5 separate regions of the Homo sapiens genome follow, and all the other regions are reported to be linked to region 1. Evidence: microRNA targets listed by miRTarBase, many of them from high-throughput screens and not tested one by one. Region 1 holds a microRNA gene; each other region holds the end of a gene's coding sequence. Distances are between the middles of the regions.

Region 1 (6,154 bases):
CTTATCTCATACTTTCAATTAGAAAATTCCAAACAAGGGTCAAGTTTCAAAAATTGCCTTTATAGATATTTATTCCTTGCTTTAAATCTTTTCTGGAAAGAAATGGCTTATTATTTAAAAGTCCGGTTCAAGGGAGGCCACTTTCTCTTTAACTAGCTTTTAGTATACAGAACCATTTTGGAGTTCCCATGAATGTTCCTAAGAGTGTAGGTAAGCCTAGAAAGGTTCAAACCAGTAACATTAATTCAACCAACTTGTCAAAGTATGCTTCATCGGGTGTTCATGACCTTCTTGGTGTCAGTGTCTTTTCTGTCAAGGAGGTTATATAAGTCAATAAATATAACATGCCCAGAATGTATTCAGTGGCTAACAATCACTGGGAATGGCAAAAATGGAACTTTAAAATTTACACTGCTGTTTTCACTGTGATAAATTATCATATGAGGCACTTAAATGAACAAACAAAACTTGGAGTAATGAATCAATGGCTTTCCCAGACAACTGCCATCTTTTGGCATATTAACAAATTCTGAAAAATACTATAATGGAAGAAAAACAGATAGGAAGGAAAAGGGATTTTTACCTTTTGGTATTAATCCATATGGCAAAGAGCAGAATAAAAAAGGTACACACACAAAAAGATATAAGGAAGTATGGATTTTATTAGAGACTTCTTAAGCTTAGAAGGAACAACAATAATACATATATATATAAATCTATAGTTGGGTTGTTGTAAAATCCTTTAACATAATTGACAAAAATTCCATATGATTAAATACCGAAAATAAAGTACTGTGTTAAAAAATTATAGATATTTGCACACTCATGTTTACAGCAGCATTATTCACAATAGCCAAGAGATGGAGGCAACCCAAACGTCCACCAACAGATGAATGGATAAAAAAATGTGGTAAATACATGCAGTGGAATATTATTCAGCCTTAAAATGGCAGGAAATCCTATCACATTCTACAATATGGATGAACCTTGAGGACATTATGTTAAGTGAAATATGTCAGCTACAAAAGGACAAATCCTGTATGATTCCATTTATATGAGGTATCTAAAGTAGTGAAATTCATAGAGAAAAGTAGAATGATGGTTGCCAAGGCTGTGGGGAAGGGGAAAATGGGAGTTGTTTAATGGGTATAGAGTCCCAGATTTGCAAGATGAAAAAATTCTGAAGATCTGTTTCACACCAATGTGACTGGACTTAATCTCATTGAACTATACACATAAAAATGGTTAAGATAGTAAAATTTATATGTGTTTTTAAAAATCACAATTTAAAAGATGCAAAAAAAGAGAGTACTTTGCCCATCCCCCCAAAGACTATAATCTCAAGTCTTCAGGTAGGGTAGGAAATGTACTACCCTAATATATAAAACACAATTAATCAAAAAGTAAAAATGAAAATACCTCTGAAAGAATATTCTCAAATGATATTTTTTAAAAATCACAGTTTAACACTCAACTAAGTGTCTGGATTGAATGTAGACTTCAAAAACTTACTACGTAAACAAGCTATAACTTTTTAACTCTTCACAAATTCCTATTTTCAGTGTTCATAATGAACAAGGTTTAAAAAAGTGGAAAGGCTCCCAAAATACTGAGAACATATATGTATATAAATCAAGGATGGGTTCACTCATTTCAAGCTATGTCAAGAAGTCTATGGGATGAAGCATGTCTGTTGTGATGGATATAGTACAGAACTAACTCCACGGCTGAGTTCTTCAGAGTGAGCCTCTGTAGGCTCATAGTCCTATTTTAAAGGAATAACCTATTGACCCAATTTGCTGGTGTTATAAGCTTGGAGGAATAGCACAATTTCAAGTTCCTTTCACAGGTGGAGTTTCTGATTAGTCTGTGGTTATTTGAAACATGGTCTACACCTACTGCAGAAGCCAGCATTATTAAAAGCATACATTTTCATTGTGCACCATAACTTTTGGATTTGGGGTCGTTTCATACTTTTTCAGAAATACTGTCTTCTAAATTAAACAGAAAAACATCTATGTGAATATAGCGATGCAACAGTTGTGATATGAGACCATGTGATGGATCAACTAGGTCAGAATATTTGTAAAATCCAGAGTGGCAAGGAATAAAAATAGAGAAACTTACTAAAAATCTTCTACAAAATAGTGATGTAAAATGTGACGTATTAACCAATTTCTACTGTGTCATTCTAGCTTGTTTTCATTAACCATAGCAGAACTTCTAAAAGTGAGCTCTAAAATGTGGCAAATTTGATAATAAATTAAGGAAAAAGTCATTAGTCTCCAAAAACAAGAATTGAAAATCATTTGGCACTGAAGCCAGATGGCAAAGACTAAATGCTCTTCAGAAATTATGAACAATTATTCAGTTACATGAGACTGACATAACAGTGTCAAGTAGAAAAACATTTAAGAAAACAGAAACCATTAAATTTGGGGGAGAGTTTAATTTGGAGGAAGAAGTTGATTTTGGGGTTTTTTAGGGCTAAGTTGCTTCAGCTAAAAATATAGAACTGATAATAAACAAGAATAGCTCTCTTCACTGGCAATAATATCTGTATGGAATTTCTATTGCGAGAAATTACTATAATGCCAAAGGCTGGGAAGACTTTGTTACCCAATGTCATCCCTCTAATTTTAGAAGGATTAACCAACCAATTTTTGCTAAAATGTAGGCACACATACCAAAAAATGTGAATCTTGGTGAATATAGGATGTCTGGTAGGCCTCAGGTTATCTTCAGTCTTCACACTCTTGATGTTCCAGGAATGATGCGCGAGCTTAGGTTGGTTCTAGGATAGGCCCAGGGGCCTGGTTTGATCTGGGATCCCTGGGACCATACCTAGAACAAACCCAAACAAAACCAAACTCCTTGGGAGTGCTTTCAGCTCAGGTAGACTTCTGGGCTTTTCACCCATATGGACCTCCACGACTGTACCAGGACCATATACCAACCTTTAAGGGATGGGAGTGACATTTCTGGAGCCTTCTGTACGTTGTCAGCTGATAGTACTGTGCCTGAGTAAGCATTATTTAAGTCATGGTATGAACAGAAGGTAACAGATTGGTGCAATAAAAGTGCAGAAAATACTTTGATTTAGAAATGAAGTTAATTTCCTTAAGAATTTACTTAAGGAAGGGGAAAAGGATATGCTTTGTTTAGGATATTATAAAAGAGTAAACTTATAAAAGACATGCTTTAGTTTTAGAAAAATTCTTCAATAATATTCATTTGTAGGTAGCTAAGCTTTAGGAAATGATATAAAACTGAAAAACATAAAGCCTAAAACAGTAAAATTATCCTTTAAGAAAATCTTAGGATATAAATAGGAGAGGAAATATATATATCCATAGCCATATCTCACAGAATATACTGATTTTAAAGGATAATGCAGTCAAGAGAATATGCAGCTTAAATACTGTACTATTGCAATAATATGTTGCTAAATGAAGTTCAATACATAGAGATAAAACTAATTTCATTGCTGACAAGCTAAAATACATTAAAATATATACCATAAAAAATACTATATGCACTTTAATTTATCACACATTTCATTTTCCTTCTTTTTTTTTTTTTTTTTTTTTTTGAGACAGAGTTTCACTCTTGTTGCCCAGGCTGGAGTGCATTGGCACAATCTCGGCTCACCAAAACCTCCGACTCCCAGGTTCAAGCGATTCTCCTGCCTCAGCCTCCTGAGTAGCTGGGATTACAGGCATGAACCACCATATCCGGCTAATTTTGTATTTTTAGTAGAGACGGGGTTTCTCCATGTTGGTCAGGCGGTTCTTGAACTCCCGACCTCAGGTGATCCGCCCACCTGGGCCTCCCAAACTGCTGGGATTACAGGTGTGAACCACCACGCCCAGCCCATTTTCATTTATTTATTTTTGAGACAAGGTCTCTCGTTCTGTTGCCCAGGCTGGAGTGCAGTGGTGCAATCATGGCTCACTGCAGCTGTGGCCTCCTGGGCTCAAGTGATCCTCCTGCCTCAGCCTACTGAGCAGCTGGGACTACAGGTGTGTGCCACCACATCCAGCTAATTTTTAAGTTTTTCTGTAGAGACCAAGTCTTGCTGTTTCTTGCCTAAGCTGGTCTTGAACTCCTGGCCTCAAGAGATCCTCCTGCCTCAGCCTCTCAAAGTGCTAGGATTGTAGGTGTGAGCCACTACGTCCTAGCTTATCACACATTTTAGAATATCTATAAAATCAGTTCCTCCTTATTCATGCTAAACTTTTACATGTGTGAATCCTTGAATCAATTAATCCTCTTTTTGGTTTACAGCAATTACACTGAATAGAATCACTTTCCTCTCACAACTACACTCAGAAGTTTTCTTCTTTTATCACTGACCTGGCTTTGGTATCTTGACTATCTCTTCTATAATGGCAGTCTCAACTCAAGAAACTGGTTTGGACCACCTATCTTTTTTTTTTTTTTTTGAGATGAAGTCTTACTCTGTCACCCAGGCTGGAGTGCAATGGCGCAATCTCGGCTCACTGTAACCTCCGCCTCCCGGGTTCAAGTGATTCTCCTGCCTCAGCCTACTGAGTAGCTAGAATTATAGGCAGGTACCACCACCACGCCCGGCTAATTTTTGTATTTTTAGTAGAGACGGGGTTTCACCATGTTGGTCAGGCTGGTCTCGAACTCCTGACCTCGTGATCCACCTGCCTCGGCCTCCCAAAGTGCTGGGATTACAGGCGTGAGCCACCGCGCCCAGCCTGGACCACTTATCTTTTATGATTATTATACCACAGATCCCTTCCATTAGCATGGATAACTGAATGCCGACTATGAGGCATGGTCATAAAATAAACAGACTGATTTGACAGTTACTTTGTAATGAAAACATGAGTCAATATATGGTTACTAAAATAATCAGCATGTTGCTAAAAATAAGTTGTTTGATGCTAGGATATCCATTTCTATACAGATTTGACTTTTACTTGTAAATATTATAGTGTGCAAATTTTATTTTTCATTCAAGAGAGAAAAGTGATCCTGCTTAATTATTAAATATTAAATTACAATTTAATCATGCCCAGTACAGAATGACAGTGGGAATTTAGTCATTCAAATATCTGCCAATATCATTAGATCTAACACTGATAACTTTTGGTAAGCTTTTAACGTCCGCTTACTATAGCTGAATAAAAATAAAGACCCTGTTTTTAAAACTAGCATAATCAAAAAATAAATTCTTTGTGGTATAATTGCCTATAGTCTATAAATTTTATTACTTCTCAGGTCTCTGTGACATTAATAGTGAATGTTTTCTTATTTTTCAGGGCTTAATCTATTTTCATGTCTTGGAAATGAAGATACATTTCTCTCTTAAAAAAAAAAAAAAAAAAAAAAAAAAAGCCGGCTGGGCGCTGTGGCTCATGCCTGTAATCCCAGCACTTTGGGAGGCCAAGGACGGCAGATCACAAGGTCAGGAGATCGAGACCATCCTGGCTAACACGGTGAAAACCCATCTCTACTAAAAATACAAAAAAATAGCCGGAGTGGTGGCGGGCGCCTGTAGTCCCAGCTACTCCGGAGGCTGAGGCAGAAGAATGGCGTGAACTTGGGAGGCGGACCTTGCAGTGAGCCGAGATTGCACCACTGCACTCCAGCCTCGGCAACAGAGTGAGACTCTGTCTCAAACAAAACAAAACAACAACAAAAAAAAAGCCAAAGAAATTCTTAACAGCATGTAGTCTCCAATTCAAATAGAAAATACTATAGAAAATGCTAACTTGAGTGGACCAGTTTTAATCAGCGCCAAATAATTCTAGTATAGAACTAACTTTAGAGAAAGTAAAGTATGTAAACAAAATAGTTCCTTTTGTACCATAACAACTTTTCTATTTTGAGAGCAGGTATCTAATTCGGTAGCTTCACTTATTTTAACGATAGCAATGAAACAGGTAGTAAAGTAACAGATGTCACAAAATCCATGCATTTAAGCATAATCCACTTCCTCAAGTCTTCACTTTGAGTTTATTTATTCTTACTTTACACAGAAGTCTAATAAACTTAGTTTGTCTGGTCTCCAAAATGAAAGCAGATCAGAAGGCACATTATGAAGGTGGAGAAGGGCTACTGCTACAGGCACACTTAAGCAAGCAGTAATAGAAATGGAAGAATCAGAACGACTGTTAAA
Region 2 (6,154 bases), not on the chromosome of region 1:
AAAAAAAAAAAAAAAAAAAAATATATATATATATATATATATATATATATATATACAAGCTATCAAACTCCTACAATCTAAAATCCCCACAAAAATTACAGTGAGTTTAACTGTGCTCCCCTTCAATCCATTACATTTTATAAGCACCATGTATATTTATGTAATTAAACTGGTATGAAAATGCAAAGCAAACCAAGCAACAAAACAAAGCAAAAAATTGTTTTACTTTAGATGACCCCATGTACTCTCATTAACCAGTGAAATTTCTATAATGCGACCAAGTATTTTTTTGATTTGTACAAATGTATGGGGTACATGAGAAGTTTTGTGACATGTATAAGGCACAGTGATCAAGTCGGTATTTAAAGTATCCATCATGGGAGTACAGTACATTTTTATTAAGTATCATCACCCTGCTCAGCTATCAAGCATTGAATTTGTTCCTCCTATCTTACTGTATGTTTGTACCTTTTTCTTTCTCTTTTTTTTTTGAGATGGAGTCCCCCTCTGTCACCCAGGCTGGAGTGCAGTGGTGTGATTTCAGCTCACTGCAACCTCCTCCTCCCAAGTTCAAGTGATTCTTGTGCCTCAGGCTCCACGAGTAGCTGGGATTAAAGGCACATGCCACCATGCCTGGCTGTGTGTGTGTGTGTGTGTGTGTGTGTGTGTGTGTGTGTGTGTGTGTGTGTGTGTGTGTGTGTGTGTGTGTTCAGGAGAGACGGGGTTTTGCCATGTTGTCCAGGCTGGTCTCGAACTCCTGACCTCAGGTGATTTGCCCATCTCAGCCTCCCAAAGTGCTGGGATTACAGGTGTGAGCCACCTCACCAGGCCTGTATGTTTGTACCTTTTAACCCACTTCTCTTCATCTTCCCTCCTGCCCCCATTCACCCTTCCCAGTCTCTGTTATCTGTTTTTCCACTCTCTACCTCCATGTGATCAAATTTTTTAGCTTCCAGCCAGGTGCGGTGGCTCACGCCTGTAATCTCAGCAGTTTGGGAGGCTGAAGCAGGTGATCACTTGAGCCCAGGAGTTCAAGACCAGCCTGGGCAACATGGCAAAACCCCATCTCTGCCAAAAATACAAAAATTAACCAGGCATGGTGGCATATGCCTGTAGCCCCAGCTACTCAGGAGGCTGAGCTGGGAGGATCGCTTGAGCCCGAGAGGTGGAGGTTGCAGTGAGCTGTGATGATCATGCCACTGCACTCCAGCCTGGGCAACAGAGCTAGACCCTGTCTCAAAAAAAAAATTGTTTTTTAGCTCCCACATATAAGTGAGAACATGTGATATTTGCCTGTTTGTGCCTGGCTCATTGCACTTAAGATAATTACCTCCATCAACTGAATATTATTTAGCCGATTTTCTAGAAAGGTTAATACTGGCCATTTTGGGCTGACATTGGCCAAGAAGCAAAGTCAAAAATGATGAGAAAATTAGCATAAAATTGTAGATGCATATTAACTTCTCTGTACCATTTATGCCCTAGTTTAAATCTGCTTTTAAAATTTATTTGAATAAGTGTGGGCTGGGTGCAGTGTGGTGGTTCACGCCTGTAATCTCAGCACTTTGGGAGGCTGAGGTGGGCAGATCACTTGAGGTCAGGAGTTCAAGACCAGCCTGGCCAACGTGGTGAAACCCTGTCTCTACAATACAAAAATTAGTTGGGCATACTCACTTTTGTCACCCAGGCTAGGGTGCACCGGCATGATCACGGCTCACTGTGACCTCTGCCTCCCAGGCTCAAGCAATCCTCCCACCTTAGCCTCCAGAGTAGCTGGGACTAAAGGCATCTTGAATAGGTAGATGTGGCAAGAGTGGACAACTTTGTTTCTGATCTATTGAGATGTTCATGTGGGGTATTTATTTCCCTCTTCAGTTTATTAATACGCAGTTGCTTTTTAAGAAAAAAGTTAAAAACAAAAAATGCATTACTATTGATTTTTATACTTCTACATACTTGATTTTATAATCTTTTACACTTTTAAAATATATTTTGTACTATGTACTTACCTTTACTGGTGTTGTGTGATTTTGTTAGTCTAGGGTCCTTACATTTCAACATTTAGCATTTCTTGTAACGATGGTCTTCTAGTGACAAACTTTTTGTTTATTGAGAAACATCTTAATACCATTTTCCTTTCTGAAGAATAGCTTTGCTGAATATAGAGGTCTTGATTGACAGTTTCCCCCCCTTTTGGCACTTTAAATGTCATTCCACTGGCCCTGTGAAGTGCCAGTGGAAGGTAGGACTGGCACTAGAATTCTCAGTGGGGGGGGTGGGATTGGGGAGAGTAACTGAATTCCAGCAAACCAGATTATCTTTGGATGACGGAAGTCTTCAGGCAGCCCTGTGTTTGGAAAAGCACTGAGTAGAGACCTAGGTAATGGATCTTAGCTCAGCAAACAGGTCCCTGCAAATTAAAGAATGGAATGAGGAGAATTTATATTTACGTGGAGACACTGGTCCATACCAAGTCAAACGTTTTCTGACCAACTTAATTTTCCTCATTCCTCACACTATGGTGTTTAATCAATTTTGGGATGTACATTTGAACATTTCTGAAATTGCGATGCATCTCACAGTCATTATTAGTCAGATGACGGTTGTGACATAGTCATCGCCGCCTTCACATGAATATCAGGACTCAGATAATAATCCTGGGAACTATAGTGGAACATCAAAGCGCTGCATCATCAATGTTTTTGGTAGCATAGAGGATGATATTGTCTAGAAAAGACAGATGTTAATGACTGCATCAAAAAGTGTCTCAAAAGAGTGGGACTCTGAAGTTTTAGGAGTATTTTAACCAATTTAGTTCAGTTGTATTTTCCTGTGCTAAGTTTGTACATAAGTGATACATGACACAAACAAAAGTCTAAAAGACTCTTTTCAGTATGAAAATTCTAACTTACGAAAGTTCTATCAGTTTAAAAGTTTGTCAAAATTTTTTAGTAGTGCAAAACAATAGTATCTTGCAATCTATAGTGTTTAGAGCTATTGATATATAGTATTGTAATTTCCTAGAATGCAGTAAATAAGCTTGAGGTCACAGAAAGATCATCCCATTTGTTAGGATAAATGAGTGAACATCTGAAAATTGTGTTTTTCTCCTTTTCTTTCTTTTTTTTTTTTTTTTTTTTTGAGATGGAGTCTTGCTCTGTCTCCCAGGCTGGAGTGCAGTGGTGCTGTCTCGGCTCACTGCAACCTCCATCTCCTGGGTTCAAGCAAGCGATCCTCCTGCCTCAGCCACCCGAGTGGCTGGGACTACAGGTGTGTGCCACCACGCCCAGCTGATTTTTGTATTTTTAGTAGAGATGGGGTTTCATCACGTTGGCCAGGATGGTCTTCATCTTTTGACCTCGTGATCCGCCTGCCTCAGCCTCCCAAAGTGCTGGGATTACAGGCGTGAGCCACCACGCCTGGCAAAAATTGTGTTTTGTCTATTAACCAATAAAAAATTATTTTGACTTTTTTTAGAGGTCAAATGAAGGCAAATTTGAGGGTCACAAAGGCCCACCGACTTACATGAGATTAAGGATTATCTGAAGTCAAACTGGCTTTGCTTTTCCAAAGGCTAGCACATTAAAAACAGGCTAATCAGCACAACCGTAGTCATAGCTACTACAGACTCAGGCAGGAGGATCACTTGAGCCCATGAGTTCAAGGTTACAGTGAATGGCCAGGCACAGTGGCTCACACCTGTAATCCCAGCACTTTGGGAGGCTGAGCCAGGCAGATCACCCGGAGGTCAGGAGTTCGAGACCAGCCTGGCCAAAATGGTGAAACCCTGTCTCTACTACAAATACAAAAAATTAGCAGGGTATGGTGGTGCATGCCTGCAGTCCCAGCTACCTGAGAGGCTGAGGCATGAGAATTGTTTGAACCCGGGAGATGGAGGTTGCAGTGAGCCGAGATCGCACCACTGCACTCCAGCCTGGGTGACAGAGTGAGACTCTGTCTCAAAAAAAAAAAAAAAAAAAAAAAGTCACAGTGAACTACAATGGCACCATTGCACTCCAGCCTGGAAAACAGAAGAGGACCTCGTCTCTATAAACAAAAACAGGAGAATCAGAACTATACTATTCCTAAGGAAAGGTTTCTGATATTATCTGTATTATTAAATGGTATTTATATATCTATAAACTATGGTAAGACAGTGTTTTAAAGATATAGTTATGGCCTGGGGTATCCGAGATGATGTTCCAGTATACGAACTTATCATGACCTTTGGTTAATTTAACATACTCCTGTAGTCTTTCATTATTTTCTCCTCCACCTCACTGAATCCTGTTTTTTCTTTTTTCTTTTTTTTGAGACGGAGTCTTGCTTTGTCTCCCAGGCTGGAGTGCAATGGTGCGATCTCAGCTCATCGCAACCTCTGACTCCTGGGTTCAAGCAATTCTCTTGCCTCAGTCTCCTCAGTGGCTGGGATTACAGGCGCCCGCCACTACGTCTGGCTATTTTTTGTATTTTTAGTAGAGACAGGGTTTCCCCATGTTGGTCAGGCTGGTCTCGAACTCCCAACCTCAGGTGATCTGCCCACCCCGGCCTCCCAAAGTGCTGGCATTACAGGCGTGAGCCACCATGCCCGGCTGAATCTTGTTTTTAATTCCTAAAGTCTCCTGAGTCTTCGGACCCAAGGGCTCAGTAGTCTAGGTGAACTGTCTTTGCAGTTAGTAGAGTGAGAGGAAACTGCTTAGCCTCCCCATGTTTGTTGGAGGGAGCAGCGATCTAATGTGGACATGTTAGACTTATACATACCAGTTTGTGAATGGAAGCTATTATTATAGCTCATTAAGATCCTCTCTAAGGTTCCTCTAAGCTTGGAGACTTTTAGAAACAGCATGGTATGATACAATTCATGCTCATTAAACATTCATTTTTCTATTGTGTTGGCTTTACATGGAATCTCATTTCAGTTTTGTGTTGGCAGATTCCATTAACTGCTGACTCAATAATCAGTGTGCGGAGCTGTACCCCAAAACCTCTCGCTGCCACTGCCAATCTCCATATTCTGTGCTGCTACAAAGATTCCAATTTCATGAAATGAGACAATATGCCCTGCCCAGGGGATGAATTGTGACTGGTCTAGGGAAATCACAGCAATCCTCTTCTTAGCTTGGACATTCACTCTAGGTTTCTACCTTCCTTTGCAACTGGGATTGGCATCTGGCCAATGAGATGTTAAGAGTTAATCTTGAGCTTCAGGAAAATTGCCAGTCTACATTTCCTTGCCCCCTTCCCCCGAACCCAAGTCTGTTATATTGCCAATGTCACCTTCTCTTAAAATGGAAATAGCCTGAATTTGGGATTTTAAACATGCACGGGTGTGAATCTTAATTTTGTTCCTGAGGATTCCAGGGCAAATTACTTATCTCTGTGCAGTCTCAAGTTTTGTTACTTGTAAAACAGGCTAAGTATCTCTCACAGAACAATGAAATGAGACATGAATGGGACAATGAAGAGGCGTAAATTCTTGGGGCCCTTTCAGGGTCAACAAATGGGATTCCTTATCTAATTAAAATTAATAAACCACATTCCTGCAAAGTCAATACACTCTCACTGTGGTGCATAAATCCTGTTATTTCATGGCCTCCACTAAGTCATTTTGGTTTAATGCTCAGCAAGATATAAGCATATTTGTGGAAGTGATTTTTTTCTTTTTAGAATTCTAGCTGTTAAAGAACCACATTTTGCCTGGTTGACAAATTTTCTTTACTTATGCTTGTGTCCACATGATTGTAAAAAAGCAAACAGTGCCAATGGCCACTTTGGTAAAAACACACAGTGTTCAAACCTATGAAGGATTACATCCTTTGGACAGGTTTTATTCCCAGGATATCAAACCCCTTGGCCATGACAGCAGCTACTGCTTCACATAGCAGCATACGCCACATGTTCACCTTCAATATTTTTCCTGAAAAGATAGAAAAAAGTTGTTAATTAACTTGTTTTCCTTTTTGAAAATCATTATTAAAGAATCTATGTTACTTGCAAATTTTAGTTAGAAGTGCATAGTCCAACCCACAGATGTTTTTGGGTTTTAACTAGAATCTTCTTTACCTTAAACTATGAAGACAAACAATTTAAAAAATAAAGGCATTTCTGTTAAGAAATGTGTTTTTAACTATTAAGAGATATAAGGTCTGCAATG
Region 3 (6,154 bases), 51 Mb from region 1:
AATGCCTCCTATGTCACTAAGAATAAAAACACAAATCGCTAACCATGGCCTAGGAGAACCTGATTTGGTCACTCCTCTGACAGCATCTTCTACATGTTTCCACGTTCTCATTCCACTCAAGACATGTAGGTGTGCTTCCACCTCAGACCTGTGCACACTGTTCCCTCTGCTTGTAACTCCTTCCCTCCAGGTATGAAAATGGCTCCAGGTATGAAAATGGCTCATGCTGTCACCTCATCCAAGTATTTGCCCCAATACTATTTTGTTGTGGAGAGGACTTCCTGTCCAACCAACCTAAATGATCACCCCTCTCCACAACAGTATCCCAAGCCAGCTTAACTTTTCTTCTAGCTCTTATCACCACCTGAAATGGTATCTATTTATTTGTTGATTTTCTTTCTCCTCCATTAGGACATGTACTTTATGAGTCAGCAATAAATGAATGCTTATGCTTTGCACATACTTTGTTCATTATTTTTCTTTTCTTTCTCTATGGCTGTGGTTTTGTGAAAGAAAGAGAAAAAGCCTCAAAAATAAACTCACTATCATTTCTGCTTTTACATAGAATTATACTCTTATTTCAGGCTGCTTTTCTAAAACACCTAACATTGGAGATAAATAAGAGGTCATGTTTTAAATGCAATATATTGGTGGTGGCAGTAACATAGCGTGCCATCCATCATTTGGAATAAATAAAAATTTCAGACTCTGTCATGCAAACAATCTCTGTGAACAATTATTTAATACAAATACAAAGACAAAAGATATGGGGGAGTTGTCCCAGCCTGGCAAGTAGAGAGAATATAAGAAACTGCAACTCAGATTATCCTGTTCCAAACTTCTCCAATAGTTCTATTCCTTGCCTACTTATGTCACCACCAATCCGGAGCTACTGTAGCCCAAGGAATTCCTGACTTTCTACCTGCAGGTCTATTAAGTAAGGGCAATTATTCTGCAAAGAGGTGACAACTCCTTTATGGAAAATGTTGAATTCTAGGGTAGAAAACTGTGCAGTAATGAAATGTCAGTAAGACCACAAGGAGCCAACTCCACTGCAATGGTGACTGCAGACAGGGAGTGTCCAGGTACCACAGTGAACAAAGTGGGTACAGAGCACAGCATCCACTTACTGTCTTCAGGGATGCTTTTGGCATGACTCTCTCAAGAGATCAATTTACTGTTGAGCTACAACACTCTACATTTGAAAAAATGGAAAATAAAAAGTCTTTCTTTAAGAACAGTTGGTATTGTCAATCCTTAAGCTACCTACATCAACAGGACTGGGACCATGCAGGTATCTGTGGGATGTGCCGACCTTCAGAGGAAGTCCTAACTAGTCAGCAATGTGGAGCTTTGATAGATGAGGTCATGCTTAGTGAACTGAAGCTCATATTTTATTCAGTAGATGTAACCTCAGTTTTATTCAACTGAATAACTTCCGCTACTCCAACACTCAAGAGTATTGACTGCTGTTTTAGAGCTTTGATATGCCATTCATTTTGTAAAGGCAATTTACAGGGTGTTTCAACTTTGGCTATAGATAACCAAGTTATGGGAAGGATGAAAGGGTTCCATGATATTGCAGTATAATTGAACAAATGCATGACTCTTTTTACCATTATATAAGGCAAACCAAAAAAAGCAATATGGCAGTCTTTTAAAAAGGGAGATAAACTATACAGGTTACTAAACCAAAGAATCATAGCGAAATATTCTTTTTTTTTTTTTTTTTTTTTTTTTTGCAGAAAAGGGGAAATAAAGAAAATGGAGTAAAGACTATTTTCACCAAGGCCTGCCCTTAAAGGAGCTAAGCACCCTCAAAATAAATTCATGCTTCTTAGCTCTCACTTTCCCTTAATATTGGCACAACTCAGCCATGGCATTCTGCCAATTATCATCAGAGTGAGAAATGGGGTATTAACCTTCCCTTTTTCAAGGAACAAAGTTCTTAAGAAACAATTGATTACTGCTTGCCCAGGGCCTGCACATGAAACAGTAATTCTCCTGGGGAATCTACTATTTGTGGAGTAAACCTTGAAGAAAAAAAAATTCAATCTGAATTCATGTGTTGCTTTAATAGTCGTTGAATTATCATAGTCTTGTATTTTCCTTCTTTTCTTCTTAACTATGAGTTTTCTTTCACTCAGCGGCCTATAGAAACCAAGGATCTGCAAGCCACCAATATGCCCAGAGCCCTACAAAGATTTCCAAAGGATTTGTAATATAAAATTCCAGCCTTGCTTCTCCTTCCAGAAGGACATATCTAAATGACAAATATGTATCTATATGGGTGTATACACACACACACACACACACACACACACTTTCCTACACACATTTCTTACTCTCTTATAAAAATGAGTAAAGTATACTTTTTCAGGAGGATTCAATATGAAATCACAAAGCTATATAAGGAAAAAATAACTTGAAAAAACTTCAAATTAACAGATATCTTCTTGGAAGCTAAATTGCTATTTACCATTGTAATACAGCTGACAAAAAATAAACCTTATGCTCTGTTGAATTAAATTAAATTAAACATAAAAAGGCTACAGAAAAATCATTTATGATAAATTCAGGGAATATAGCTACTTGATTTTACACATTCAATAAATATTACCATGCCAAACTATGAAGACATTTTTGAATTATCTTTCAACTCAGCTCGTGCTAGGTTGTTTCCATAGCAATAGTGAGTGAACAGTTAAAAGCCACTTTATCATTTCTGTAGCTTGCGGTGGTCACCTTGTGTTCATTTTAATTTTTTTTTAAAAAATGCCTCTATGCATCGAAAATTAATTTGACAATACTTATATTTCCTTTTCACCCTAGTGTAAAACATAACAGGGCAATATTGGATTGGCTTCCTTTATTGAGTTTCAGGATGTTTACTTTTATCCCCTCTGACATTCTGGTGCATCAAAATATTTAACATGTAATTAATATCATAATATCTTTTAACATTGATATTTTTAAAAATTTTATATCAAAACGTGAAGGACCAATTCTTGAAGACATTCTCAACCTCACATACTGCTCTCCTTATGTGTATCAGTTAGAATCCTGGCAGGAAACAGATGGCACACTCAAGCTGGCTAATTAAAGAGTATAACAAAGGGACCATTTATAAAGATATGCCTAGAAATAGAGAAAACAAGATTGAACAGTTACCTCCCAAGGACAGAATAGCCAGAGCTGTTAATATCCCTAAGCCAGAAGATGCAAACAGTAGAAGTTATCAGAACCTGGTGAGGCAGTGAGACAGAGAGGAGTACCTTTCAAGAGATATAACCTTCAGTAAGGTGACACACCAAATCATGGCGGTGGCCAGGCAGGAAGGGAGCCAGCGGAATAAATATCCAAACTTGACCTCTTCCTAATATGCCAGCTGTGTTTCCTGCTGCAGTATAATTGAAACCAGACAAGAATCAAGAGGAAAAGGAACCCACTATTAGGGTCTGTATAGGTCAGCCACCCCAGGATGCACAGCAGGGTAGAAAGGGTGAAATTGAGGATCTAGAGAGGAAGAACTAAGTTATCCATCACATCCCTTACTTAGGCATATCATTTTCAATTTGGAAATTTGGAAATAGCAACTTTCAATTTAGAAATAACATAGCAGGAGTTTATCATCAGCAGAACTAGAATGCAATTTTTATAGAATCATCTGTGGAAAAGAGGAACATATTAAACAAGATACTCAGACTCACATGTGTTATAAGGTAAGAGAAATATTTATTTAATTTTGCACAAGAACGAGCTTATACTGAACAAATTCAACCAAATAATATTAAGTGCAGTAAAACAAGGAAATAGGGATGACTTTTCCTGTTAGAAAATATTAAGTAACCATGCCTGTGCATTATTTTTATCATTACAATAACTTGTTTCAGATTTCTTTTCAGAGTGTACTGTACATAACATGTTATAGCTTCTTTGCTTTACTTCTGAAAATATAATTCATTCACTGCCTGACATTTTATTTCTTGCAGTGAGGAACCTAACTGATTCTTGAAGATTCTGATCTAGAGGAAAATTTTCTGCACCAGTGAAGCTAGAGGCTTTCACAGATCCAATGGGCTCAGGCTTTCTATCCAGGGTTCAGGATGTCACGGTATATACTGTACGCCCATTCTTCTACATGGTGATGTGAGACACAGTAGAGGCAGACTTGAGGTCTAATTTTGCCCCAGTAATTTTCCTTTTGTGATTTTGTCAAGCTCCACAAATTTCATAATTGAAAGTTCACTCAGCTATTAACAAAGCTGCATTTAGCTGCCCACAAATCACCCAATTTAAGTTTTAACTTCTTTTTGGTCTTTTAATGAAAGAACATTCTTTTAACAGAAATCTCCCATGAGACAGTTAACTTCACAGTTCCTGAAGGCACTGTGGATCCACTGAGCAACAGATGTGGCCATTCTAGATTTAAAAAAAGTAGAAAGAAAAACAGTATGAATTTTTAAGCCATTAGTAAATGATCACATTTATTGATTGGTACTTACAAACAAAACTGTATAATTTATTTCTGCATTCCTAAAAATTCAATGGCCCAATCACTTTTCATGACTCTACTATTGCAGACTCAATTATTATGCCCATTGTATTTGTGGGAAGTCATAAACTGGCTTTATTTACTCATTGGCATCCTCTGTATCACATTTGTTCTTTCATTTATTTGCAAAATATGTACTAAGTCTATGTAAGCACTAAGTATATTAATAAATAAAGCAGACATGGTCACTAACCTCACAGAGCAGGGTTTGCAGTTTATCTAGGGAGAAAACTAGTAAGTACCATGCAAACATATAATCAAAAATTGTGAAAAGTGCTAGAAAGGTGCTATGAACTAAATGTTTGCATCCTCTTAAAACCCACATGTTGAAATCCTAATCCCCAGTGTGATGGTATTAGGAGGTAAAGCCTTTGAGAGGTAATTAGTGAATGAGGGTAGAGCACTCATGAATGGGATCAGTGCCCTTACAAAAAGATGAGAACACATGCGTCCTCTCTCTCTATCTACCATGTGATACAATGAGAAATGGCCATCTGCAAACAGGAAGTGTGTCCTTGGAGATACCAGATCTGCCAGGGTCTGGATCTTGGAATGTGAGAAATGAATTTCTCAGCCTCCAAAATTGTGGGGAATGAATTGTCGTTGTTTAAGCCACCCAGTCTATGGTATTCTGTTACAGCAGCCTGAACTGACTAAGACAAAAGGAAATACACTAGGTGGTTGTGTGAGATTAATAAAAGACTAGCTACTTAGTCAATGTCCAGGGTAGACTGTTCTGTGAGGTGATATTTAAACCGAGACCTGGAGACTGCATGAAAAGGTGGCCAAACGCACAGAGGAGAGTTTTGTGTAGTTAAGAAACTGAAAAAAAGCTTTGGGTAAGAATTTTCAGTTAGGGAAGAAAACTGTGGTGATGAAATAGGATAAATAGGCAGGGAAGGGCCAGATATGCATAATTAGTTTTTGATATAAGGTATCAAAACAATATAGTGTTGTACAAAGAAGAAAAACCTTCTATCCTATTCTTTTGATTCCCTGCACTCTTACTTTTCTCAACCAGCTAACTCATAGATAATGTTAATATCGTTTTTAAAACCGTGATGATGATAATATCCCTCCATTCCTTAAGTGTGTACTCTGTGTCAGACACTTTGCCAGGCATTTAAAATACATTATCTAATTTCAACCGCACAGCATTCCCAGTTGGATTCCTATTAATAGTCACACGTTTTAGATTCAGAAACTGAAGATCAGAAAGCTTAAATATCATGTCCAAAATCACACAGCTAGTAAATGGTAGAGCTAGGATTAAAACTCAGGCTAGCCTGACTCTAAAATACATCCTCCATTATATAGTTTCTCTCAGAAAATTGGCTTTTGATGATTGAAATGCATTATACTTTAATATGATAAAAACTGAAAGTGTCTTTGTTTCTATAAAAGGAAACCTGAAAAGATTTTGATAGTCTAGCCTTTGCTAAAGCACACTGATGAGGAAAAAGCCAGTATATATCCAAGAAGAATATTATCAGTTTAACTTATTTGCATCTTTTCTAACTTATTATTAAGCTGAGTTCATATTCTGGCAGTGACAGACTCAACCATTTCTTAGACCCCTAGTGGCATTTTAAAGTTTTG
Region 4 (6,154 bases), not on the chromosome of region 1:
AAAGGAAAAAGAGGCGACGAGAAAGAAATAAGATTGCAGCTGCAAAGTGCCGAAACAAGAAGAAGGAGAAGACGGAGTGCCTGCAGAAAGTGAGTGCCTTCTAGCCTTACCCTTCCTCTCGCTCACGCCTGTCTTCACCAGCTTCATGTGGCTATCAGAAGAAGAGTTAGAAAACCCCCTACTTGGTTATAGTTTCCCAAGAAGGGCCTTGTAGCTGGTAGCAGAAATGCCAGTTGCAGAATGAGGAGGTGGCAAAGCAGTTAACACAATGGATGTGACGGTGGATGTATAAAAACAGGTGTGTGAATTCGTCTGATGCCTGACTCCCAGCAGCCTCGGCCGGTTCATACATGTCCATCAGCTTCCAGGCTGCAGGACATGCCAGCCCAGTTAAAGAGGCTTCACTTGACTGTTTTCCTGAGAAAAGGAAGCTGCCAGCTCTCATTTGGCTCACTATGAAAAGCCTTTAATTAATCTCTTCAAACAAGTTATTTCCTTAATCCACAAGCAGTGGTTACACTTGCTTTGCATTCTTGTCTGGTTCCTAACTCTAGAGCCCTTCTCCCTGGCTTAGCCAGTAAGCTGAGCCCCTGGCTGCGTTCAGCCGGCCCGCCTGAGAGACACTAGGGGAAATAGCTTTTGTGGGCAAGCAGGGTGGCCGGTGGTGCTCAGCAGTCTTTCCAGTGGCTGTGTCCCTCCTCCAAATGTGGACAGGCCATGACAGAGTCTTAGCCCAAGTCCCACAGATCCCCAAAAGTTCTGTTGATTGCTTCAGGGGATCAGTGAAAATTAGGGAATTTTGTGTGTTGCTATATACATTTTTTCTGGGGAGATGAGCTTCTCATTGAGATCTGTGACTCAGAATCGACTAAGCCACCATAAGTCTGGATTTCTCCCCAGCTCCCAAGGCCCTTTTGGGTCCAGAAGACCTGCATATGGGCTGTTGACTCATGCAAATGAGGTATCTGAACTGCAGCTTCAGTATTAGCAGAGCCACAGGCCGCCTCTGTGGCATCACCAGGGTTTCTCTGAAGAAGAGGGTCTGCATTTTCCTAAACCCAGTGCTGCTCTCCCATCTCCCATCTTCCTCTCGCAGCTTGATGAGCCCCGGTGTGTCCCAGGTACACCCCTGCATCCAGGCAGCAGCCCAGGCCACCCCCTCCTCACTGGCCCTTGGCTCCTTTCTTGATGCCTCTGTTGCTTGTCCCCCAGGAGTCGGAGAAGCTGGAAAGTGTGAATGCTGAACTGAAGGCTCAGATTGAGGAGCTCAAGAACGAGAAGCAGCATTTGATATACATGCTCAACCTTCATCGGCCCACGTGTATTGTCCGGGCTCAGAATGGGAGGACTCCAGAAGATGAGAGAAACCTCTTTATCCAACAGATAAAAGAAGGAACATTGCAGAGCTAAGCAGTCGTGGTATGGGGGCGACTGGGGAGTCCTCATTGAATCCTCATTTTATACCCAAAACCCTGAAGCCATTGGAGAGCTGTCTTCCTGTGTACCTCTAGAATCCCAGCAGCAGAGAACCATCAAGGCGGGAGGGCCTGCAGTGATTCAGCAGGCCCTTCCCATTCTGCCCCAGAGTGGGTCTTGGACCAGGGCAAGTGCATCTTTGCCTCAACTCCAGGATTTAGGCCTTAACACACTGGCCATTCTTATGTTCCAGATGGCCCCCAGCTGGTGTCCTGCCCGCCTTTCATCTGGATTCTACAAAAAACCAGGATGCCCACCGTTAGGATTCAGGCAGCAGTGTCTGTACCTCGGGTGGGAGGGATGGGGCCATCTCCTTCACCGTGGCTACCATTGTCACTCGTAGGGGATGTGGAGTGAGAACAGCATTTAGTGAAGTTGTGCAACGGCCAGGGTTGTGCTTTCTAGCAAATATGCTGTTATGTCCAGAAATTGTGTGTGCAAGAAAACTAGGCAATGTACTCTTCCGATGTTTGTGTCACACAACACTGATGTGACTTTTATATGCTTTTTCTCAGATCTGGTTTCTAAGAGTTTTGGGGGGCGGGGCTGTCACCACGTGCAGTATCTCAAGATATTCAGGTGGCCAGAAGAGCTTGTCAGCAAGAGGAGGACAGAATTCTCCCAGCGTTAACACAAAATCCATGGGCAGTATGATGGCAGGTCCTCTGTTGCAAACTCAGTTCCAAAGTCACAGGAAGAAAGCAGAAAGTTCAACTTCCAAAGGGTTAGGACTCTCCACTCAATGTCTTAGGTCAGGAGTTGTGTCTAGGCTGGAAGAGCCAAAGAATATTCCATTTTCCTTTCCTTGTGGTTGAAAACCACAGTCAGTGGAGAGATGTTTGGAAACCACAGTCAGTGGAGCCTGGGTGGTACCCAGGCTTTAGCATTATTGGATGTCAATAGCATTGTTTTTGTCATGTAGCTGTTTTAAGAAATCTGGCCCAGGGTGTTTGCAGCTGTGAGAAGTCACTCACACTGGCCACAAGGACGCTGGCTACTGTCTATTAAAATTCTGATGTTTCTGTGAAATTCTCAGAGTGTTTAATTGTACTCAATGGTATCATTACAATTTTCTGTAAGAGAAAATATTACTTATTTATCCTAGTATTCCTAACCTGTCAGAATAATAAATATTGGAACCAAGACATGGTAAACATGTGTTGTGCTGGTTTCTGTTCATTTAAATCTGTCGGTTGCTGAGACCTAGCGATTCCCTGCCTTTCCCTCCCCATTATGGGGGGTGCCTAGCTTTAAACTTCTCCAGATGTCATCCTTTGCTCTTTGGGGCATCACTAGATGGGATAGTTGGCTTTCAGTCCTGTTCCTCAGTCTTGGGCACCTGATGCTCAATTTTTCATTGACAAACCCTGAAACATGGCACCAAATATATCCTTTAGATCAACAGTTTGGTGTTTAGAATTTTGATGTACAACTGAATTGCTAGATACCTTAATTATTTTCTCTGAATGTACAAACACCTAAAACATACACCTGTTGTTCAGCTTGAACCTTTGACCCCTAACATTCTGCCACAGAACTCGTCTCAGAGAGTTACTCACTTGAGTTACATCTGTTTCATGTCTAAACGTGTGTCTCATTGTTGCAAATACATATCAGAAAAGAATGGGAAGGGGTACCGGAGGAAGAAAGAACCATTTTAGACAGCATGGGTGTGATAATTCAAAGAAAGACATTCCACTGAATTTCCTGGAATTTCCAGGGCGTATGATTCCTTTGGCCTGCAAGAGAGCCAGGCCCCCTTGCTTTTTGTGCTTCTCTATAACATTCACAGGCTAGACATAAAAACTGGCCACTCGCCGCTGGTGCCATTCTTCAGAGAAGAATGTCTTCGTTAAATGTCAGATTCGTACACATGAATTCTGTGCCTACTTCTTTGACCTCATGTATGTTTCCTTTAAATGATCACTTAAGACACAGGTGTCTTCATTTTACTCTCTGAATTGCACATCAGGGGTCTTTCCTAATCCATCAAGAGCCATCTGATGTTAATACCATTCAGCACTTCTTTCAGGGGATAATTTATGTTCCTTTTCTTGGTGGAGGGGAAAACATCCCTTGCATTTACCTTCTAGTTATGGGTAGAGGCACCAGCCACCAGCCATTATGAAACGCAAGACAATTTGTAAGCTGCCAGGAACAACAATGGATTAGAGAGGAAGGAAGTTGGGGGCGGATGGTGGCTATGGCAAGAAAACTTGATGTGTATGGTAAGTGTAAATGAAGGTCTATCACAAATGCATTAAAAATTGTTTTATGTAGCCAAGTTTATGTTTTGATACTTTAATTTTAAAAAGGATGATGACTATGCATTTACCATCAAGGCATTTAGTTTCTTTTGTTTCACATTTAGAGGAAAGGGAAGGTGGGGGGATCTGAGAGAATAAACTTAGATGGGGCCACCACCAATATCAAGCACCCGGTTTGGCAGTGTCTGCACTGAGCTGTCTCCTGTTGGTAGTGGTGATGTCACACTGCCAGGGTGTGGAAAGCCACCCTCCCTCCTCTCTCTTGCCTTCCACCTGCCCCTTTGGCTTTCCCTGAGAGCTGGCCTGACACCTGTTTCAGAGTCAAGAGCTTTTAAAGGGTTCTGGCCCAGGACAGGAGTTCTGGAATGGAATCTTTCCACTTTCTGTTAACTAAAATACTATTTTCCATCTGTATCCTAATTTCTCCCCATGGGCTTTGAATAAACCCTCAACACTCCAACCCATATCAAGCTTTCTCCTCTCTTCCCTGTCCCGTAACCTCTGGTTGGGTTCATGTACTGTTTCTTTGTGGCGTGAACAGCGTTTCCAATTAGAATCTGCCTGAAAGGAGGTCCCATTTGCCCACTGAGCATCCTGTGTTCTCATGGTGGCTCTAACTCCAGAAGATTTTAACACAGTCTCATCAAACACTGCTTTCAGGGAGGAATTTACACTGAGGTTAAAAGGACTGTTGAGGACTAATGCTAACAGAAGCTAACATTTATTGCGTAGGACAATACACTAAACACTTCACATGTATTATCCCATTTAATCCTCACAACAACTGCTACCCCCATTTTACAGATGAGGGAGTGGAGAGCTCAGTAACTTGCTCGAGGTCTCACAGTGGATCTTTCCAAAGCTGAAGCCTATGCTTGTTTTCAACAGCAATGATTTCAAACAAGAGTATATACATTTGTGTGTGTGTGCGTGGTAAGATATACAAAAAATTTGCCATTGTAACTATTTTGAAGTGTACAATTCAGTGCCATTAAGTACATTCACAATGCAGTGTAACCATTACTATCTAGTTCCAGAACTTTTTCACTGTCCCCAAAGGAAATCCTGTACCCATTAAGGAGTCACTCTTCATTCCCCTTCCTTCCAGTCTCTGGCAACCACTAATCTGTCTTCTGTTTCTATGGACTTGCCTGCGCTGGATATTTTATGTAAATAGCATCATACAATATGTGGCCTTTCGCACAATACGGCTGGCTTCTTTCACTTAGCATAATGTTTTCAAGTGTCAGCCTAGCGTATTATGTAATAGTACCTTATTTCTCTTTATGGCTGAATAGTATTCTGTTGTATGGATACTATACTTTTTGTTTATCCATTCATCAGTTGATAGACAGGTGTGTGTATGTTAAGAAACAGCTAGCCTTTATCTTCAAGAACTGAATCTCTAAGGTAGGATTTCAGGCCTGATGTCAAGCTGGGAGAAAAGAGAGTTGGAAGCAGGTGCTCCTTTTCAGGACTTCCAGGTAACAGCTTGGAAATTACTTATTCCTGGGCTCGCTCTGTGGGCATGGCAAGGCAGGAGGTATAGTAGCACCTGTTCCCCATGGATGTAAATGGCTTCCAAAGTACTTCTGCATAGTAGAGAGGTTAGTAGAGGAGGGCCTTTGATAGGCTCCTGGAATGTAAGCTCACACTTTCCATCCTACCCTCTTCTCCCGGCATTTCACAGGGTAGGGGGTAAGAAGAGGCACGGGGCAAACACTGGGGGCCTTGAGAAAATATTTGGGCTCCCTGACACAGGATGTTGGTATAAACATGATGGAGGAGAAATAGAGGTGGCCCCTTGGATAATTTAATCCCCCACTCAGCCCAGCCCCTTTCTGAAGTGGTTGTCCTGGATTCTCCATAACATGCATGCATACACACACACACACACACACACACACACAGAATTAATTATGCAACTTATTTGGCTTGCCCAAGCTTTTTTTGTAAGTTCTGTAGTGGTTCAGAAGGAAGATTTTAAAAGCAGCAAGACCTGTATTCAAATAATACCTCCACTGCCTACGAGTTCTACAAATGCAGGTATGTTTCACAACTTCAGGTTTTTTTTACCTGTAAGATGAGAAGCGTTGCAATAGTATCAAACTGGAATGGAGTTTGATACATAGTATGGCGCCTAGAAGAAGCAATCTCTCATGTTATTATTAAAGGTTGAGGTTATTACTAAAGATTTCCATTGTCAGCATGAACTGAGATTTTATGGAAGAGTGGGCTAAGAACCAAGACTGCGAATTCTAGGTTAAAAAAAAATTTAAACCGTGTACTCAAATGGTTCAAATTTATCCCATCATCTTGCGTTCCTGTAGACTCTGCCTAGTTGCTGAATCTTTTGAATTTGGGGTGAGGAAGGGGAAGCAACCACACATTTTCTCATTTGAAAAATTTTT
Region 5 (6,154 bases), 39 Mb from region 1:
GAGCCCCCAAGGCAGACCCTTCCCTCTCTACCTCCCGATTCCCAGACCACTGGGCTTGGTCCTCAAAGATTCCTCACCTCCGCCCTTGCCCAACCTGGGTCAAGGCTGCAGAAGGCTGGAGCCACCACAATTAGAGGGGAAGGGGCTGCTTTGTTCCTTATCCCTCCTTCTTAAAAGGTAGGGTTCAAACTAGGCGGGATGGGGGCCCATACTGGTTTGCCCCAGGAGTAGGGTTTCTGGGCTAGGGTCTGTAAGGCTATTTTCCTTTGCGGTGGGAAGGGGAGGTAGGGGATGAACACTGGGTATGGGAAGTGGGTGAGAAATGGCTGAGAGGGAAGGAGGAAGGGGCCTCCCCGCTGGAGCAGTCACTGGAGTCATTTAGACAAAAACACTCATGTGCATAAGATACACAGTGCGCAAACTCAGCCCTGCCAGCCCGGCCCCAATCCCACCTCTCAGGACTCCTTCCAAGACCCTGGAGGAGGTTCTGGGGATACAGCTGTAGAACCGTTCACTCTGGCCCCATCCACCCCACCTCCAGCCTCTTCTCCCCTTCTAGGTCCAGGGAGTAAGAAGGTGCTCGGGTGGGCAGACAGTGGTGGAAACAGTATTGAGTTTTCCTTTGGTTACATATTGAAGGCAAAGGTGAGCTGGACTTACAGTCAAAACGGATAGGGGTGAGGAAGGAAGAGGGGCCATGGCTGGGGTTGGAGAGGGAGGTAGGCCCTCCTCAGCCCCTCCACCCCAAGAAACACATCTACGTGGGGTGGCAGTCCCTCAGTCTTTTCTCTCCCACGCCCCACAGCACCAAACAAAAGGAGAAGCCCCCTCCCCCAGGGGCTGCTCCCCACCCCAACCTGGGCTGTACATTCAGTGGTTTTCAGCAGTCCTATGGCTCAGGGGGCCACGGGGCAGGGGAGGTGGCCCGTCAGTCTCAGTGGACAGTGGCAGTGACCCGGGTCTGCTGGTCCTTCCTGGGACCCACGGTTTGTGCCATTCGTTTTTCTGAAGGATAGTATATGACCCTACCAGAGCCACCGCCCAATCAGAAATAGCTCCCCCAAAATCAGAAACTAAAAACTGGCTCTTTCCATCTCACCCTCTGATTCACACGTCTGTTTCCCTGTCTCCTATGTCGCCCTCGCTCTGTTTCCTTTGCTGGGACCTGGGGCTGCTCCCAGGGTCCTCGCTTAAAATAGGCCTTTTCACAAAAGTGCTTATTACTTGAAGCAAGTGCTTTAGGGCTGCGGTGGGGAGAGGGGGGAGGGGGAGGGCAAAGGGAAGGCGCTGTTCCCTCCCCGCCCTCCCCCATGAAGACTGGGGGGCATTCTGCCTGTTTTACTTCTCCACACCCGTTTAAGTCAAAGAGGTTTAAAAAAAATCTTAACATTAAAATAAATATGCAGTGGCCATGAGAATGGTCAAAATGCTTCAAAAAACACTAGGGCTGGGGAGCCCAGGGTGGGGCGTGGGGTTTCCTTTGGCATAAGGAGAGGAGGCTGCTTGTCCCCCAGGCTTCCTCACAGCCACATATGGAGGGACAGAGGACTCCCCACCACCTCCCAGCACTGCTGACAGTGCGCTGAGGGCAGCAGGGCGCAGACAGCCCCCAGAAATCTCATCTAGCAAGACAACGGGGCTCTGACACTCAGACGCTTCCCGCCATCACCAAACATCACGAAAGGAGAACACGACTCACACCCGGCAAGTTCTCTCTGGAGGACCCATCTTCTCACTCCCCTTGCCCCCCACCACCTAATTCCCAGCACCAAGATGAGAGGGAGGGGGTGGAATGGGAAGATTTCAGGAGAGAGAATTGAAGGGAAGGCAAGCTTTGCAGAGCCAGCAGGGTTGGGGATGGGGGCTGCAGCCCTTAAGAGAGGTCACATTGATTGTCATATAGGGGAGGACACGGTGTGGAGGGAGGTGGGCAAGAGGGGCGTCACAAGGCCCTTTGGCTTTGAAAATAAAAATAAAAACTAAAAGCTGCACAATCCTTCTCATCAATAATGGTCATTTGGAAGCCTTGAAATGATTTAGGAACTGAGGGTTGGGAGAAGCAAAACACAGAGAGACAGGGGATCAAAAGGGACCATGAAAAGATAAGGACTTGGACAACACCCCAGGCTTCTGGAAACCAGCATGAGGTATGGTTAAAGGTATCCGTTGGGGAGGGAGGGGGTCCCTGGGACGCCCCCCTCCCCTCAGCCCACCCTTGACAAGGGTGGCAAGACATTCAGGGTATACAACTAAAAGATGGGTAAGACTGTGAATAAAGCAAACTTGAGTAGGGGAGGGAGGCTGAAGGATCCCCCCTCAGGGGAGACCCTGTACTGTGTAAACGAAGCCTGTCCAGTTCTCAGGGGACAATACTGATGGCAGCCAAACTGGGCAAGGATGCAGTGTGGGGGCGGAGGGGGCATGACCTCTATTCAAGTTCTGTGTCTTGGCCCCTGGCTGAGGTATTGAGTGTGAGGAAGGGAACACTGGGCTGCAGGAGTGGGTCCAACTGTCCAGGAGGCTGCACTAGGAGATGGGTGGACAGAGCACTTAAAGGGACCAGGGCCAAATTCAATGCTACATTTAGAGAGAAAACTGCCCCCTCTTCACTCCAGCCCAGTTTGGCTTTTGGGGTGCGACTTTAGAAATCTTATCAGTGCAGCCCCCAGCTCAATCCCATCTTTCCTCCCTGCTGGGAAGGCAGGGACCAAGCCCCAGTACCTATTCATCTCTCTCTAGGTCAGAGCTTCTTCCTCACACTGGAGGGGAAGCCTGGGTCCCGAGTAGCCACGGTCCCTTGTCGGCCCTGCCCCTCCTACCATCTTTGGCTTCAGATCAGGAGTGACTGGGGCAGTGGGTACTCTTGGACATAACGGAAGGTGGAGGCAGATAGGGAGCACAGATAAACTATGGGCTTGGCGGCACAGGAGGAAGAACATGGTCCCTCCCTCCATATACATGCAAACACATGCCTGAAACACAGTGGACATACTAGGGCTGTGGTTTTGAAATGGGCAGGAAATTAATTTGTTTCTTCCCCTAAAGGATAAAACGCTTACTTAAAAATTCATGACAAGCCTCAAAGTTCAAGGGAAGGAGAGCCAGGGCAGGAATGACCACAGGCTCTGCCCTCCCAAAAGAAGATAAAAGAAAGAAGCAAGGTTAAAGTGCGTGGTTAGGGGCCAGGCTAGGAGTGGGAGGGAATGGGGAGGGGGCAGGCTGTGGGGGCAGAACCAGCCCTTGATTTGCATATGAGGAGCCAGGGGAGAGTGCAGGATTGGGGCCCAGGTACAGTAGTTGCTGCTTCAAGTGTTTTGCATTTGAACTTTAGGGGTGATAGGGTACAGAAGTGGGGAAAAAGCTCCAGGCCCCAGTGCTAAATATCCTCCCCCCTCATCCTCTAGCTGCCCCTGAAGGGGGGAGGGGGACACCCCCAGAGTGCTCACACAGTACCAGAAATTAAGGCTTCTCACTGCTGCGGGGATGGAGGGACCGGCCGAGCAGGGAGGCAGTGATGGGTATGGAAGAAGAGGGGATCTGCCTGGCAGTAGGGGCAGGGGAGAAGGGGGACACAGAGAGGAGTCCCCAGGGAAGAGTCGGGGGAGCTGGCAGCAGAAAGAGGGAACCAAGAGATGGAGTCAAAGAGTGGGGGAGCCAGGCATTTAGCAATCATTTTGGGACACTTGGCAGAAGGGGTCGCCCTGGGGGTACCAAGGGCCTGGGGTGCTCCCTGTCAGTCCCAGACCCCTGCCAGGCCAAGATGGTGTGGCAAAGGGGTGAGCAGCTGCTCCCCAGGGCTTCCTTCCCCTCCGCCCCCTCCACCCAGTCGTGTTCTCCTTTAAAGTGCCCTAAATGTTTAGACTTTTTCTAAATAAATAGAATTAGATATCAAGCCACCGGCGGGGGAGGGACACTGGAGGGGGCTACTCAGAGTAGCAGCCATCTAACCCAATGGCGCCGGGCCGCTCCTGGCTGTAGGGGCAGGAGGCCCCATGGGGCAGGGCGCCGCAGCCACCCACCGTCTTGGCGGCTGCAATGCTGCAGTTCTTGAGCAGGCTGAAGCTGAAAGGACTGACGGCGTCCTTGGGTGGGAAAGGCTTCATGGTGGAAAGGATCAAGGCCAGGCAGTCTGCCACATCTTTGTTGGGGGCACAGGCCAGTGCTGGGGTGTGACCTGCAGGGCCAAGGGGGAGAACTGAGGCATAGAGTCCTGTATCCTAGCCAGCCTCCCCCAAGCCCTGAAGTCTCTTCTCTGTGGAGGGAGCCAAGGCAGGCAGGTACCCAGCAGCGGCAGAATCCAAGGGTGACGAGGGCCCAGGAAGGCTGACAGGCAGATTCTCTAAGTACGGGTTAAAGGGCGGGCATGGGAGTCAAAGCCTAGGGTGTGGAGTCCTCCTGACCCTGCAGGCTCCCCTCTGAGACTCCAGAGTACTGGTGTGGGCTCCCTGCTCTGAAGAGTTCCCTTGGGAAGAAAATCCCATGTATAGCAAGATTAAGAAGTCACCTCCTGAAGAATGTCCCTGACCCCAAACCCAAGAGAGGCATGGGGCCCCAGACCCCACCCACCTTCTTCATCCACAGCCAGCACTGTGGCCCCATGACTCAGCAGGGCCTGTACCACAGAAGCTAGACCATTCCGGGCAGCAATGTGGAGTGGCCTTGGAAAAAAGGAAAAAGAAGGAGCTTGATGCTAAGCTGCCCTTCCACCTCCAGACAGGGTGGCAAGGGTGCTGAACAAATACAATGGGCTCCAGAGAGCCTCTGAACAGCGGCCACTCTTTCATCACCCACTGGCCTCCCCCAGCCAGGAGCCCCCTTCCCCAGGCACTCACATCTGCAGCGCACTGTTGGTAGCATTGATAAGGCCAAGGTCTTGGGTTTCTGCCAGGATCATGAGGGCACATTTCTCATGGCCCTGAGGGAGGGGAACAGAGAGTGGAGACTTGTGAAGTAGAAATGTGGCAGGGTGCAGGGCAGGAGTTGGGGAGAGTAACAGGAGGACAAACAGCTGCCCAACCAGTCGGATAGGCTGGACAATCCTCACTTCTGCCCCAGTCCCCTCTGCAACCGAGACTTACCTCTCTTCATCAAGCTCTGCCCCTTATGCAGTCCCCCAATCACTTCAGGTAAGTACCTTGCTACAAGCCAAGTGGAGGGCCGTGTTCTTGTTCTCATCCAACACAGTAAGGTCTGCCTTCCCTCGATACAGCAGAAATTCTACGAGAGAAATGTGATAGAGGGACTGACCCCTCCCTCCAGAGCAGTAGCCATCCTGGCTCTCCACTTTGCATCCCGTCTGCAGATGGCGAGACATCCAAAGACAACCCTCTTGCTTTCTGAACCCCAGCCCCAGCCAGCCTCCACAGGCAGGGCTGACCCATCCTGCAAATGCCCCAGGGGAGCTCCTCCCTTCCACAAGTGGCCCCTACACACCCACAGCAGCGGTCTGCCCGTTCTCAGCCGCCGTCATGAGCGCAGTGCGGCCAGTGTGGTCAGTGGCGTTCACCTCAGCTTGATGCTGCAGCAGCATCCGGAGCCCAGAGACATTGTCCGCGAAGGCAGCGGCGTGAAGGGGGGTCCTGTAAGGCAGGGATCAGGGTAGATTAAAATAGGGAAGAGTATACTGCCCAAGCAGAAAGGGGAAGCCAGAGGCAACTGGGATTCTTCCCAAGTCTTCCATCACTCACCGTCCTTTGGCATCTCGGCTGTTCACAATCTTGGCACCCAGAGCTCCCAGTAGCATCTCTGTGGTGCTGTCTTGGTTATTAATCCTAGAGGAAGAGGGAGGAGGGGTCATCAGGAAGGACAAGGGAAGTAGACTACCTGTCCTAAGCTCAAGTCATGGGCCCTCGCGAGAAGGGCTGATGCAGCAGAAGGGACTTACACTGCACAGTGCAAAGGAGTGAAGGGGTTTCCTTCCAGGTACGAAAACGGGCTGTGTTCAAGTAACAACTCCAGACAATCTTCATGTCCTGGGCACGAGGAAGGAAGAGTAGTGATGGAGAAAAACGGCAAGGTTCCCTGTCTGTCCTGTGTCTTGACACTCCATTCCACTTCCAGATTCAGATCAACCCAGGTCCCCCCCAACAACCCACCTGTCCCCCTCTACACACACTCCAACACATGCTCCTGTGCCTGTGGAGGCCCCAGTCTA

The links. The annotated mature microRNA hsa-miR-331-3p reads GCCCCUGGGCCUAUCCUAGAA and lies in region 1 at 2,793-2,813, opposite strand. An mRNA with a match to its seed (bases 2 to 7 or 8) in the 3' UTR can be bound and repressed. Matches are read on the target gene's strand: a 7mer-m8 pairs with bases 2 to 8, a 7mer-A1 pairs with bases 2 to 7 and ends in A, and an 8mer does both.
Region 2: miRTarBase lists RARS1 as a target of hsa-miR-331-3p. The part of its 3' UTR that is shown has no 7-base or 8-base seed match.
Region 3: the mRNA of NELL2 is a reported target of hsa-miR-331-3p. The part of its 3' UTR that is shown has no 7-base or 8-base seed match.
Region 4: miRTarBase lists ATF3 as a target of hsa-miR-331-3p. The part of its 3' UTR that is shown has no 7-base or 8-base seed match.
Region 5: the mRNA of ANKRD52 is a reported target of hsa-miR-331-3p. Seed matches in the 3' UTR shown: 7mer-m8 at 2,451-2,457.

What each region holds. Positions count from the first base shown.
Region 1 is chr12:95,305,139-95,311,292 of GRCh38, reverse strand. MIR331 (microRNA 331) reads right to left here and starts at 2,873; the gene lies at 2,780-2,873. It overlaps MIR3685 (microRNA 3685), which reads right to left and starts at 1,370; the gene lies at 1,309-1,370.
Region 2 is chr5:168,518,844-168,524,997 of GRCh38, reverse strand. RARS1 (arginyl-tRNA synthetase 1) reads right to left here. Exons shown (of 15, transcript NM_002887.4): 15 at 5,697-5,917. The coding sequence ends at 5,808. Among named protein-coding and RNA genes, the nearest start is that of FBLL1, 7.4 kb to the left of the region's middle. RefSeq lists an enhancer at 4,128-4,297.
Region 3 is chr12:44,504,563-44,510,716 of GRCh38, forward strand. NELL2 (neural EGFL like 2) reads right to left here. Exons shown (of 20, transcript NM_001145108.2): 20 at 3,716-4,422. The coding sequence ends at 4,372. Among named protein-coding and RNA genes, the nearest start is that of NELL2, 370 kb to the right of the region's middle.
Region 4 is chr1:212,618,146-212,624,299 of GRCh38, forward strand. ATF3 (activating transcription factor 3) reads left to right here. Exons shown (of 4, transcript NM_001674.4): 3 at 1-89; 4 at 1,213-2,630. The coding sequence ends at 1,410. Among named protein-coding and RNA genes, the nearest start is that of GARIN4, 3.3 kb to the right of the region's middle. RefSeq lists a silencer at 3,482-3,776.
Region 5 is chr12:56,239,219-56,245,372 of GRCh38, forward strand. ANKRD52 (ankyrin repeat domain 52) reads right to left here. Exons shown (of 28, transcript NM_173595.4): 22 at 5,885-5,972; 23 at 5,688-5,771; 24 at 5,434-5,579; 25 at 5,135-5,217; 26 at 4,833-4,915; 27 at 4,567-4,658; 28 at 1-4,174. The coding sequence ends at 3,924. Among named protein-coding and RNA genes, the nearest start is that of SLC39A5, 12 kb to the left of the region's middle. RefSeq lists enhancers at 3,888-4,057, 4,990-5,159, 5,180-5,349 and a cis regulatory region at 5,075.